Linked DNA regions of Homo sapiens: region 1 is linked to region 2. Evidence: fine-mapped expression QTL. A gene starts in region 2. The other region holds a variant in brackets. All regions are shown on one strand. Distances are from middle to middle.

Region 1 (5,366 bases), 25 kb after region 2:
CTCCTTCCAACAACCATTCCCCAGGCCTCCCCTAGCAATATGCTGTTTATCAAGTGCTCACCCTGTGCTGGCCCTCTGCGTGGCATTTGTGGACAGTAGCTCATTCAACCTGGGGTTAGAGTGTGGGACCCTGTGGGTTAGATGAAGACACTGAGGCTCGGGGAGCTAATGGCCATGGTCACAGGTAGTAAATGGCAGAACTGGGATTTGAACCCAGGACTGTCCGTCCCCAAAGCTGGGGTTTTTCTGTTCCACCACAAGGCCCACGTGTCTCCCTGGGAGAAGTGAGATAGACGTCTGAGGTAGTGATTTTACTGGAAATGGATTTGGCTCAGGGCCCCAGGGTGGTGGGGCAGCAGTGAAGGCCCAGAAAGGTGACAAGCGAGTAGACATGGCTCAGCTGGGCCACTGAATCATGCGGCCCCCTCAACAATTGCCTCCTGGTCTCGAGGCCTCCCTTGGCCACCGTACTTTGGCCTGAGGAGGGTTCTGCCTGGGTCTGAGGGCCCCAGGGAAAGGCTGATGAGTTGGAGGGAAGAGATGTGGGGCTTAGAGCCAAGCCTGGGTTCAGATCCAGCCACTAGCTGTGTGTCTGTGGGCAAGTTCCCCAACCTCTCTGAGCCTCATTGCCTCACTTGCACCACAGGATAGTAACGCCCTCTCACAGGGTGTGGCGGGTCATAGGGATGAAAGTTCCCGGGCACACACAGGCAGGGCTGACCCCTTTAGGTCATCCCACTCCCCTTGGACATATTCGAGAAGGCTCCCTGGAGTTGGCTGCTCCCTGACTCCCCCGTCCCTTCCTTGCCCTCCAGGAGGGCCTGGAGAGTGTGCTGAAGATTCTGGTGAATCAGCTGAGTGTGGATGACGTCAACGTCCTCACCTGTGCCACGGGCACACTCTCCAACCTGACATGCAACAACAGCAAGAACAAGACGCTGGTGACACAGAACAGCGGTGTGGAGGCTCTCATCCATGCCATCCTGCGTGCTGGTGACAAGGACGACATCACGGAGCCTGCCGTCTGCGCTCTGCGCCACCTCACTAGCCGCCACCCTGAGGCCGAGATGGCCCAGAACTCTGTGCGTCTCAACTATGGCATCCCAGCCATCGTGAAGCTGCTCAACCAGCCCAACCAGTGGCCACTGGTCAAGGTACTGCTGTTAGGCGAGGGGAAGGAGCTCCCTGCAGCAGGCTTAGGTGCTGTATTGGTATAGGCAAAGCCGCTGTAGCAAAGAAGCCCTAAATACAGTGGCTCGAATAAGACAGAAGTTTATTTCTCTCTCGTGTAATAGTTTAGACCTCAACAATGGCTCTGCTCTAAAATTCCAGAATTGGGATTTCTATCTTGTAGCTCTACCAGCCCCTAGGGCAGAGCTCAGAGTTCAAAATGCACATGAGTACCCTGGGTGGTTTCATTAAATTGCAGGTTCCAGGGCCAGGCACGGTGGCTCATGCCTGTAATCCCAACACTTTGGGAGGCAAAGGTAGGAGGATTGCTTGAGGCCAGGAATTTGAGACCAGCCTGGACAACATAGCAAGACCTGTCTCGACAACAATAACAACAACAGAAATTAGCCAGGTGTGGTGGTGCACGCCTGTGGTCCCAGCTACTGGGGAGGGGAGGCTCAGGTCGGAGGATCGCTTGAGCACAGGAGTTGGAGGTTACAGTGAGCTATGATTGCATCAGTGCACTCCAGCCTGGGTGACAGAGCAAGAACCCGTGTCTTAAAAGAAAAGAAAAACAGGAGGCTGGGTGCAGTGGCTCACATCTGTAGTTCCAGCACTTTGGGAGGTGCAGGCAGAGGCGGAAGCGGAAGGATCACTTGAGGCCAGGAGTTTGAGACCATCGTGGGTAACATAGTGAGACACCCATCTCTTACAAAAAATTTGGAAAAAAAAAAAAGCCCAAACAAATAAACAATCTAAAACACACACACACACACACACACACACACACTCTC[T/A]CTCTCTCTCTCTCTCTCTCTCTCTCTCTCTCTCTCTCTCTCTCTCTCTGTCTCTCTGCAGGCCTGCTGCAGAGGGCTTGCCATTCTGTATGTCTTTTTTTTGTTGTTTTGAGACAATGTCTATTGCCCAGGCTGGAGTGCAGTGGTACATTCTTGGCTCACTGCAACCTCTGCTTCCCGGGTTCAAGTGATTCTCCTGCCTTGGCCTCCTGAGTAGTTGGGATTACAGGTGCACGCCACCATGTCTGGATAATTTTTGTATTTTTAGTAGAGATGGGATTTTGCCATGTTGCTCAGACTGATCTTGAACTCCTGAACTCAAGTGATCCACCAGCCTCAGCCTCCCAAAGTACGGGGATTACAGGTGTGAGACACCAGGCCCGGACAATTCTGTATTTCTTCTTTTTTTTTTTTTTTTTGAGACGGAGTTTTGCTCTTATTGCCCAGGCTGGAGTGCAATGGTGCGATCTCGGCTTACTGCAACCTCCGCCTCCCGGGTTCAAGCGATTCTCCTGCATTTTTTAGTAGAGACGGGATTTCTCTATGTTGGTTAGGCTGGTCTTGAACTCCTGACTTCTGGTGATCCACCCACTTTGGCCTTCCAAAGTGCTAGGATTACAGGTGTGAGCCACTGCACCTGGCCCAATTCTGTATTTTTAACAAGCTCGCAGGTGCTGCTCCATGGAGCACATTTCTTATGCCACTGGGTGTAGACGAGAGGGTTGTCCTCACACGAATGAGTGGACTGTATCATCCCCACGGATGTGTTCTAGCCCTGAGAACTGGGGATGGCTAGCGGCCACCAGAAAGTGGCACACATCACTCCTGCTCACACCCCAGAACTTGGTCATTCAGCCACATCAAGGTGCAAGGAGGTTAGGAAGTGTGATCACCAGCCAGATGGCCGTGTGTCCTGCTGAAAATCAGGAGAGCCACTACAGAGACACAGGGCACAGAGGATTCTGGGGACGCTTAGCATCTCCCATAGGGAGTTGGGTGTGTGAAGGAGTGGGGTCTTCTTCTTGAGGCTACCTGGGTGGAAGAGAGCTAGCTGTGTGTCACTTCCCTGTCAGGTGGGGGAAGTGAGAGTGGGTCAGGGTGTGGGCAGACCCAAGGGACAGAGTTATGGGGGAAAGCGTTTGTGTGTGTGTATATCTATATGTAGAGACAAGGAAGGCAGCCAAAGGCAAGGTGGCATCTGGTGCCAGAGAGTGAGGAAGCTACCATCGATGAGGGTCTTGTCAACGGGCACAGGAGCCAGCTGGCAGGGGCATCCGCCAGCTACATTTAAGACAATTTAATAGTACAGACAGGCCAGGCGCAGTGGCTCACGCCTGTAATCCCAGCACTTTGGGAGGACGGGGCGGGAGGATTACCTGAAGTTAGGAGTTCGAGACCAGCCTGGCCAACATAGTAAGTCCCCGCCTCCACAAAAAATACAAAAATTAGCTGGCCATGGTGGCATGTGCCTGTAATCTCAGCTACTCGGAAGGCTGAGGCAGAAGAATTACTTGAACCCGGAAGGCAGAGGTTGCAGTGAGCTGAGATCGCTCATTGCACTCCAGCCTGGGTGACAGAGAGAGACTCCGTCTTGGAAAACAAAAACAAAAAACATGGCCAGGCGTGGTGGCTCACGCCTGTAATCCTAGCACTTTGGGAGGCCGAGGCGTGTGGATCACGAGGTCAGGAGATCGAGACCATCCTGGCTAACACGGTGAAACCCCATCTCTACTAAAAAAATACAAAGAAATTAGCCAGGCGTGGTGGCGGGCGCCTGTGGTCCCAGCTACTCAGGAGGCTGAGGCAGGAGAATGGTGTGAACCCGGGAGGCGGAGCTTGCAGTGAGCTGAGATCGCGCCACTGCACTCCAGCCTGGGCGACAGAGCGAGACTCCGTCTCAAAAAAAACAAACAAAAAAACAAACAAACAAAAAAAACCCAGTGCAGATAAGAATGACTCTAAGTGATTCTACACATTGAATTATTATTTTTTATTATTATTATTATTTTTGAGACAGATTCTTGCTCTGTTGCCCAGGCTGGAGTGCAGTGGCATGATCTCAGCTCACTGCAACCTCCGCCTCCCAGGTTCAAGCAATTCCCGGCTAATTTCTGTATTTTTAGTAGAGACGTGGTTTCACCATGTTGGCCAGGCTGGTCTCGAACTCCTGACCTAAAGTGATCTGCCTGCCTTGGCCTCCCAAAGTGCTAGGATTACAGGCGTGAGCCACTGCGCCCGGCCTATACATTGAATTAAAAAAAGAAAATTCATGTTTAGAAAAAAAAATGTCATTGTGACCCCTCCTTGATGCTTGGTCCCTGCTGCAAACCTGAGGTGGGACTTTGCATCCTAACCCAGCAGCTAAGTGGCAAGTGACTTTGGCAAGTCATTTGCCCTGTGCTCACGTCCCCATCTCACATGATTTTCATCCCTGTCCTCCTGGCGTCTTGTTTTGAGGATGAAATAGATGACACCTTGAGAGGCTCTGGGAGGCCAGAGTGGCTCCTCTGAGTCAAAGACCCTGGGGAGGAGATCTCAGGACACCTCTTTCCAGAGCTGCCCTGCTGGGGATTAATGACAATGTGAGCACCACCCAAGCAGGAGGCTTCGGGGGCACCTAGAGCACAGAATTCCTGAGAATCAGGCTTGGAGGACTATCAGAAAAGCAAGCAAGGTCATGGTGTCTGTGGGGGGTGGTTAAGAAAGAGGGGACAGGGTGAGGGGCCAGGCATGGGGCTGGCAGGATGTTCTGGAATGGGGTGTCATTTTAGCAAGGGCTATTAGAATTAGCCATGAGCAGCCGGACGTGGTAGCCCACACCTGTAATCCCAGCACTTTAGAAGGCAGAAGCAGGCGGATCACCTGAGGTCAGGGGTTCGAGGCCAGCCTGCCCAACATGGCGAAACCCCGTCTCTACTAAAAATACAAAAAATTAGCTGGGCATGGTGGCAGGCACCTGTAATCGCAGCTACTCAGGAGGCTGAGGCAGGAGAATCGCTTGAACCCAGGAGGTGGAGGTTGCAGTGAGGTGAGATTGCACCACTGCACTCCAGCCTGGGTGACAAGAGCGAAACTCTGTCTCAAAAAAAAAAAAAAAAAAGAATTAGCCATGAGCACTCCCAGATCCTGTGGATTAAGTGACATGGCTGGGATGGTCTCCTTCTCTGGATATTTTCCAGTATGTCTGTGTCTGGCCTCGGGGACAGAAGAGGTGAAGGAGGGAAGGGATACTTGAAGCTGGGAAGCTGGGATCCTTCAGATGTCCAAGAAGTGCCCCTGATCACTGCCCCTTTTTTTGCCAGGCAACCATCGGCTTGATCAGGAATCTGGCCCTGTGCCCAGCCAACCATGCCCCGCTGCAGGAGGCAGCGGTCATCCCCCGCCTCGTCCAACTGCTGGTGA
Region 2 (5,366 bases):
GAAGGAGTCAGGCCAGGCTTGGAGCTGGGACGTATGTGTGTGTGCATGTGTGGAGGTGGGAGGTGGGCAGAAGGGGGAAGAAATGAAACCCTGGCAGCTGCAGCAGTCCAGGATTGTGAGCCCATTCCTTCCCCAGCTGTGGCCTGGCTACAGCTCTATGTGACAGGGTGACAAGCAGGTGGATGGGGCAGGGGTAAGGCAGGGATAAAGATAGGGAGGTAAGCTGGAGGATGGAGAGTTGAGGAAACAGGCAAAGGGCGGTGGCCCTGGTTATGGGATGGCCACTAGTTCAGGGATGTCCGTATCTCCCTGGCCCTGCTTTTGGATGGCGCAACTTCAGAAGGGAGAATGTTCAGCTACCATTCTTTTCTCTGGTGGGGAAAGTGGTCAAGGTTGCTGCTAAGGTACCTTCATCCAGCCCATCCTGTGTGCTAGCTTTGGGGCTGTAGAGCTTTGTTGATGGGGGACCCTTTTCTAAACCACCACTCCTCCAAAACCCACCCACACACGCTGCTTCTGCTTATCCTTCTATGAGCTCTTTGAAGGTTGGGATCATTTTTATTTCCTGTGTCACCAGGTTTTATTTTCTGTGTTCACCAGTGCCTAACATACAGTTGACAATGAATACTCAAGTGTTGAATGAAGGAATGTTTGTAGGGCCCTTGGCACACCATACAGCCACGAGCAGCATTCATGTCATCAACCACAGAAAGGAAGTGCCCTTGTCTTCTTAAGCTGCCTGTGAGAAGTCCTTTTTATTTTTTTGAGACAGAGTCTCACTCTGTCACCCAGGCTGGAGTGCAATGGCATGATCTCAGCTCACTGCAACCTCTGCCTCCCGGGTTCACGCCATTCTCCTGCCTCAGCCTCCCGAGTAGCTGGCATTACAGGTGCCCGCTGCCATGCCTGGCTAATTTCTGTATTTTCAGTAGAGATGGGGTTTCACCATGTCGGCCAGGCTGGTCTCGAACTCCTGACCTCAAGTGATCTGCCCACCTTGGCCTCCCAAATTGCTGGGATTACAGGCATGAGCCACCACGCCTGGCCGAGAAGTTCTCTCTGATCTCTACCCCAGGCTCTCCTATCGCAGAGGGGTGTGCTGCCCGGTTTATTTTTTTCTTTTCTTTTTTTTTTTTTTGTTTGAGATGGAGTCTCGCTCTGTCATGCCCAGGCTGGAGTGCAGTGACATGGTCTCGGCTCACTGCAACCTCCGCCTCCCAGGTTCAAGCAATTCTCCTGCCTCAGTCTCCCAGGCAGCTGGGATTATAGTTGCCCGCCACCACGCTCGGCTAACTTTTTGTATTTTTTGTAGAGATGGGGCTTCACCATATTGGCCAGGCTGGTGTTGAACTCCCGACCTCAGGTGATCCACCCGCCTTTGCCTCCCAAAATGCTGAGATTACAGGAGTGAGCCACTGCGCCTGGCCTGCCCCGTTTCTTTCATGCCAGGGCTGGATTTCCTTCAGATCTGCTGCTTGATGTTTCCAAGCCCACCAAAGCCTCCTGACACCAATACTGTATTTTTGTGCCAATTAATTGTTCTGTCTCTCCTCCAAGTGTTTGTGCCTTTTCTCTGCCCCTTCCCCATTGCCTTGACATTTTATGTCTATGCTCCTCTTCCATGAGGGGAACAGCTGGTTTGATGGTCCTTCAAATGAGAGGAAGGAGGTTCTAGCTTGGGGTGTGCCACTTTGTAGTTTTGTGACTTCTCTGAACTTCGGTTTCTTCATCTTTACAATGAGGGTCGTTTTCTCATCCTAACTATTTTTCAGAGCTGTCACAATAATTAAAAAAAAACATACCGTTAATTTAAATTTCTAACCTTTAGCAGTTTCTGAGTGCTTTCACAAACCTGACCTCATTTAATCCCCACATACTCCAGTGAGGTAGATATGGCTAATGTATCCAGTTTACAGAAGAGGAGAAACAGGGTGAAGTAACTTGCCTAAAATCATACCAAGTGGGAGAAGACCAAACCTGGCCTTCTAATTCTAAATCCCAGGAGTACTCCATCTTTCGGGAAAAAAATCCCACCCCAGCACAAAGCCTATGAAATGCTATACAAATATGTGATTACTACTTTGGGGCAAGGATGAATAAGCCCAAAGAAGCATCATGCCTGACGCTGAGTTGGCTGGCCGGTGAAGGCGTCTGTCCCTTCCCTTGGTATCCCTATGACTTACCTGTTGGACAGGTAGGGGGAAGGGGAGAGTAATGAGTCTCACCTGCTCAGAGCAAGGGTGGGGCAAGACACACCCCATCCCTTCCATTGGTTTTTTCCTTAGTCTTACTGACAGAGCCTTGTCCAATCAGGAGGAAGTAACTTTCTATCTGCCAATAGATGCAATGTTAGGATGAGACCTCAAGTTAGAGTCCATCCCTAGAGCCGACTGGCAGTCCCCGGGGCCAATGGCAAGCGGATAAACAGAGGCGGCCGTGGAAGAGGACTGGAGGCGAGGCTCCGCCCCTCCACGGGACAGTCAGGCGAGATAGCCAGTGAGCTCGCACCAGAGGGTGGGCGTCTCCCCCAGGGGCGGAGCTTCGAGGTGGCGAGGGGCGTGGCTTGGCTGTCAGGTCTCTTCGCCTTTTGTTCGGTTACTGAGTTGCTGCCTTGGCCAGAGTCCGGAGCAGCCGCCGCCCGACCACGCCGAGCTCAGTTCGCTGTCCGCGCCGGCTCCCACCCCGGCCCGACCCCGACCCGGCCCGGTCAGGCCCCATACTCAGGTGCGGGCTATCGGGGGCGCAGGTATCGTTGGGGACAGAGGGGTGGCGAGCGGCCGCGGGGCCGGTCCCAGCCGTCCCTGGGCAGGTGAGGGCCGGTGCCATCGAGCGCCACCCTGCACCGGCGGCAGGGGGCGCGCTGGGGTCCTGGGCGCGGCGACTTGGGGGTCGCGCGGTTCGGGCCGAGCGCGCCTCGGAGCTCCGCGAACCAGAGATCTGAGCAAGGCGGGGAGGGATCCGGACAGGTGCCTCCGGGGTCGCGCCTCCCCCGGGGCCCGCGCAGCTCGCCCGACGCCGCGTCCCTGACTCTCGCCCTGGGCTGGCGGGGGAGACTTTGCTCTGCTTCGACTGCGTCCCAGGGCTCACGCTGCAGTCAGGAATTTACCGTTTGGGGAACTTGCTGCCGCTGGTCTCTTTGGGGCCACCCTCACCCCACCCCACGCGTCATCCTCGCTTTCCCTCCCTCCCTACTCCCCCAGGCCTGGGTGGGGCCCTATTGTTTGCGCCCAGCTTGCCCAACTGTGGGGGCCGAGCGCACATTTTCCCAGCGACTCTGGCCCCACCTGCCGAGCAGGTGAGCGCACGGAGTCCAGAGGCCCTGCCCTCCAGCTCCCAGAGCCTCGTCGATACTACCTGCGGCGCCTCCCTCCACGCCGGTGGGAGCCCGGCTCTGGCTTCTTCAGCGGAGGTGGGATGGAGTGACTGGGGGGTGCAGGGCTCGGCTCAGTGTCCAGCTGGTGTCTGGCACCCGTGGCTCGCCCTGGGGTCTGGGGGGTGGGGTCTGTGCACGGATGAAGAATTCAGGGTCACCTGGCCCAGTTTCCAGTAGCTGTGGCTGCCAGAGTGTTGGTAGGGGAACAGGACCCGTCTTCTCTAACCTCTTATTGTTGGAAAAAATCACCCAAAACAAACTTTGCAGGAGGAAGTATTCACAGCAGCTTTATCTGGGGGTTTTCCCGTCTCCTTGCCCAAAACTTCCTTTAGGCTTAGGGGGTCCTTCCTGGTGCAAAACCCCTTCCCCCAGCCGGCCCCTGGCTGAACCTGGGCCGGTGCCTGGGCTCCGACCCTGTCTTCCCTGCCCCCACATTCATCCTGTTCGCTGGGCCCCAGGGGCCTGAGGTAGGGGCCGGGGTGGGGGGTGGAAAGTGCTGAGAGGGGAAGCAGCTTCTTCCTTCTCTTCCTGCCTCCTGGGACCACCACACCCCCTCAGACAAGGCCTGCGTAAGTGGTTGTCTCTCAAGCTCTGCCCCCTCCCCAGGAATGGGGGTGGGGCAGGGCTGGGCCAAACTGAGGAAGGTGGGGGGAGTGGTTGTTCTTGTCTTTTTTTTTTTGCCTCTACCCCATCCCCCACATTACTTAGCTGGCTGGTTATTGAGGCAGAAGCGCATGAGGCTGTGGGACTTGCCTTCCATTTGATTTCTGAATTGTGAAGGTGCATGCTTTCTGGAGGCCTGCACAGACCTTTCCCACCCGCTTTCCTGAAAGAATTTGACAGGGAAAGTGAGACCGCAGGAAGGCTTTTTGGGGGAAGGTTTCTTCAATGCTAGACTCTCTCAGGCAGAGCTGCATCGGGCCCCCTGCCTTCCCTGCTCCCAATTTCCTGAGACCGCCCCCCCCCACCCAGAATTGGGGATCTTGATCAGGGTTTGTACCCCGGTTTAAAAAAAAAATCTGAAATGTGGTCTTTTTGCAGGATTTGGAGCCCAGCCTCGTTGGGGAACAGAGAGAGAATACAACAGTTGGGTTCTCTCTCAGTCCTGGGGGTGGGAGAAAGATTGTGGGGGGCGGGGATCGAGAGTGCTTGGAGGGGAAGAGTCTACCACCTCTTTCTTTGTTGTAGATGGGGGAGTGAGGCTGGGGGCCCAGACTCAGCCCCTTTATCCTGGGTGGGGATCACGCTCAGCCCTGTGCTAGGGGGAAGTCAGTGTGGGAACTCAGATCCTTTTCTGCCGGGGGATGGGATTCTGCACCTCTGGGGAGCAACAGGAGCAGGGAGTTTGGGCAAAAATAACCTGCTTTCCCTCTTCTCTGTGCCAAGGTGGAGGAGGGGAGGGCATTGTAATTATGTTGGCTACATGATTAGTTTAGCTAATCTGGTTTGTGGCTGTGATGAAAAGATAATACTGAGGAAGTACTGCTAGGAGGTGCTTGGTGAAAACTGGCCACTGACTGGACTGGGGGATGCGGGGGAGGAGGAGAAGGTAGGACCCAGTTAGTCATTTCTTGCTAGATCAAGCCCCAGCTTGGGTGACTTGAGCCCTCCCACCCCCACTCCACCCCTCCCTTGCACCCTGGCTCCACCCCATTCCCTCTGGAGCCTCTGTTTGGGCTGCCAGGGCCGAGGCTTTGAGAATGCAGTGCATAGGAACGAAAAAGGTCGGGCTAGGGCTGCCAACCTTTTTCCCATCCTGGAGCCACCTTAGAGTGAGATGGGTCAATTGACTAGTCTACAGAAGGACTGTTTATTTGGAGAGATGGGACAGTGGGGCAGTTCTGAGCACAGGGCTTTGGGCTTGAACTGAGCTGGGTTTGAGACCCAGCTCTGTCTCTCATTACCTGAGCCTCAGTGACCTCTTTGGCAAAATGGGAATACTAATACCTATCTACCCAGTAAGTACTTGACAAACGGTAACTCAAGATCAAGG

What was found. PIP is the estimated chance that this variant, and not a neighbour inherited with it, causes the effect.
Region 1: its variant is the best candidate, but not a certain one, in a credible set for the expression of JUP in whole blood (INTERVAL, PIP 0.56).

What each region holds. Positions count from the first base shown.
Region 1 is chr17:41,758,771-41,764,136 of GRCh38, reverse strand. JUP (junction plakoglobin) reads left to right here. Exons shown (of 14, transcript NM_002230.4): 8 at 816-1,154; 9 at 5,267-5,366. Among named protein-coding and RNA genes, the nearest start is that of JUP, 25 kb to the left of the region's middle. The variant T/A (reference allele first, on the strand shown) is at 1,965.
Region 2 is chr17:41,783,946-41,789,311 of GRCh38, reverse strand. It overlaps JUP (junction plakoglobin), which reads left to right and starts at 2,601. Exons shown (of 14, transcript NM_002230.4): 1 at 2,601-2,724. RefSeq lists silencers at 2,633-2,932, 3,097-3,309.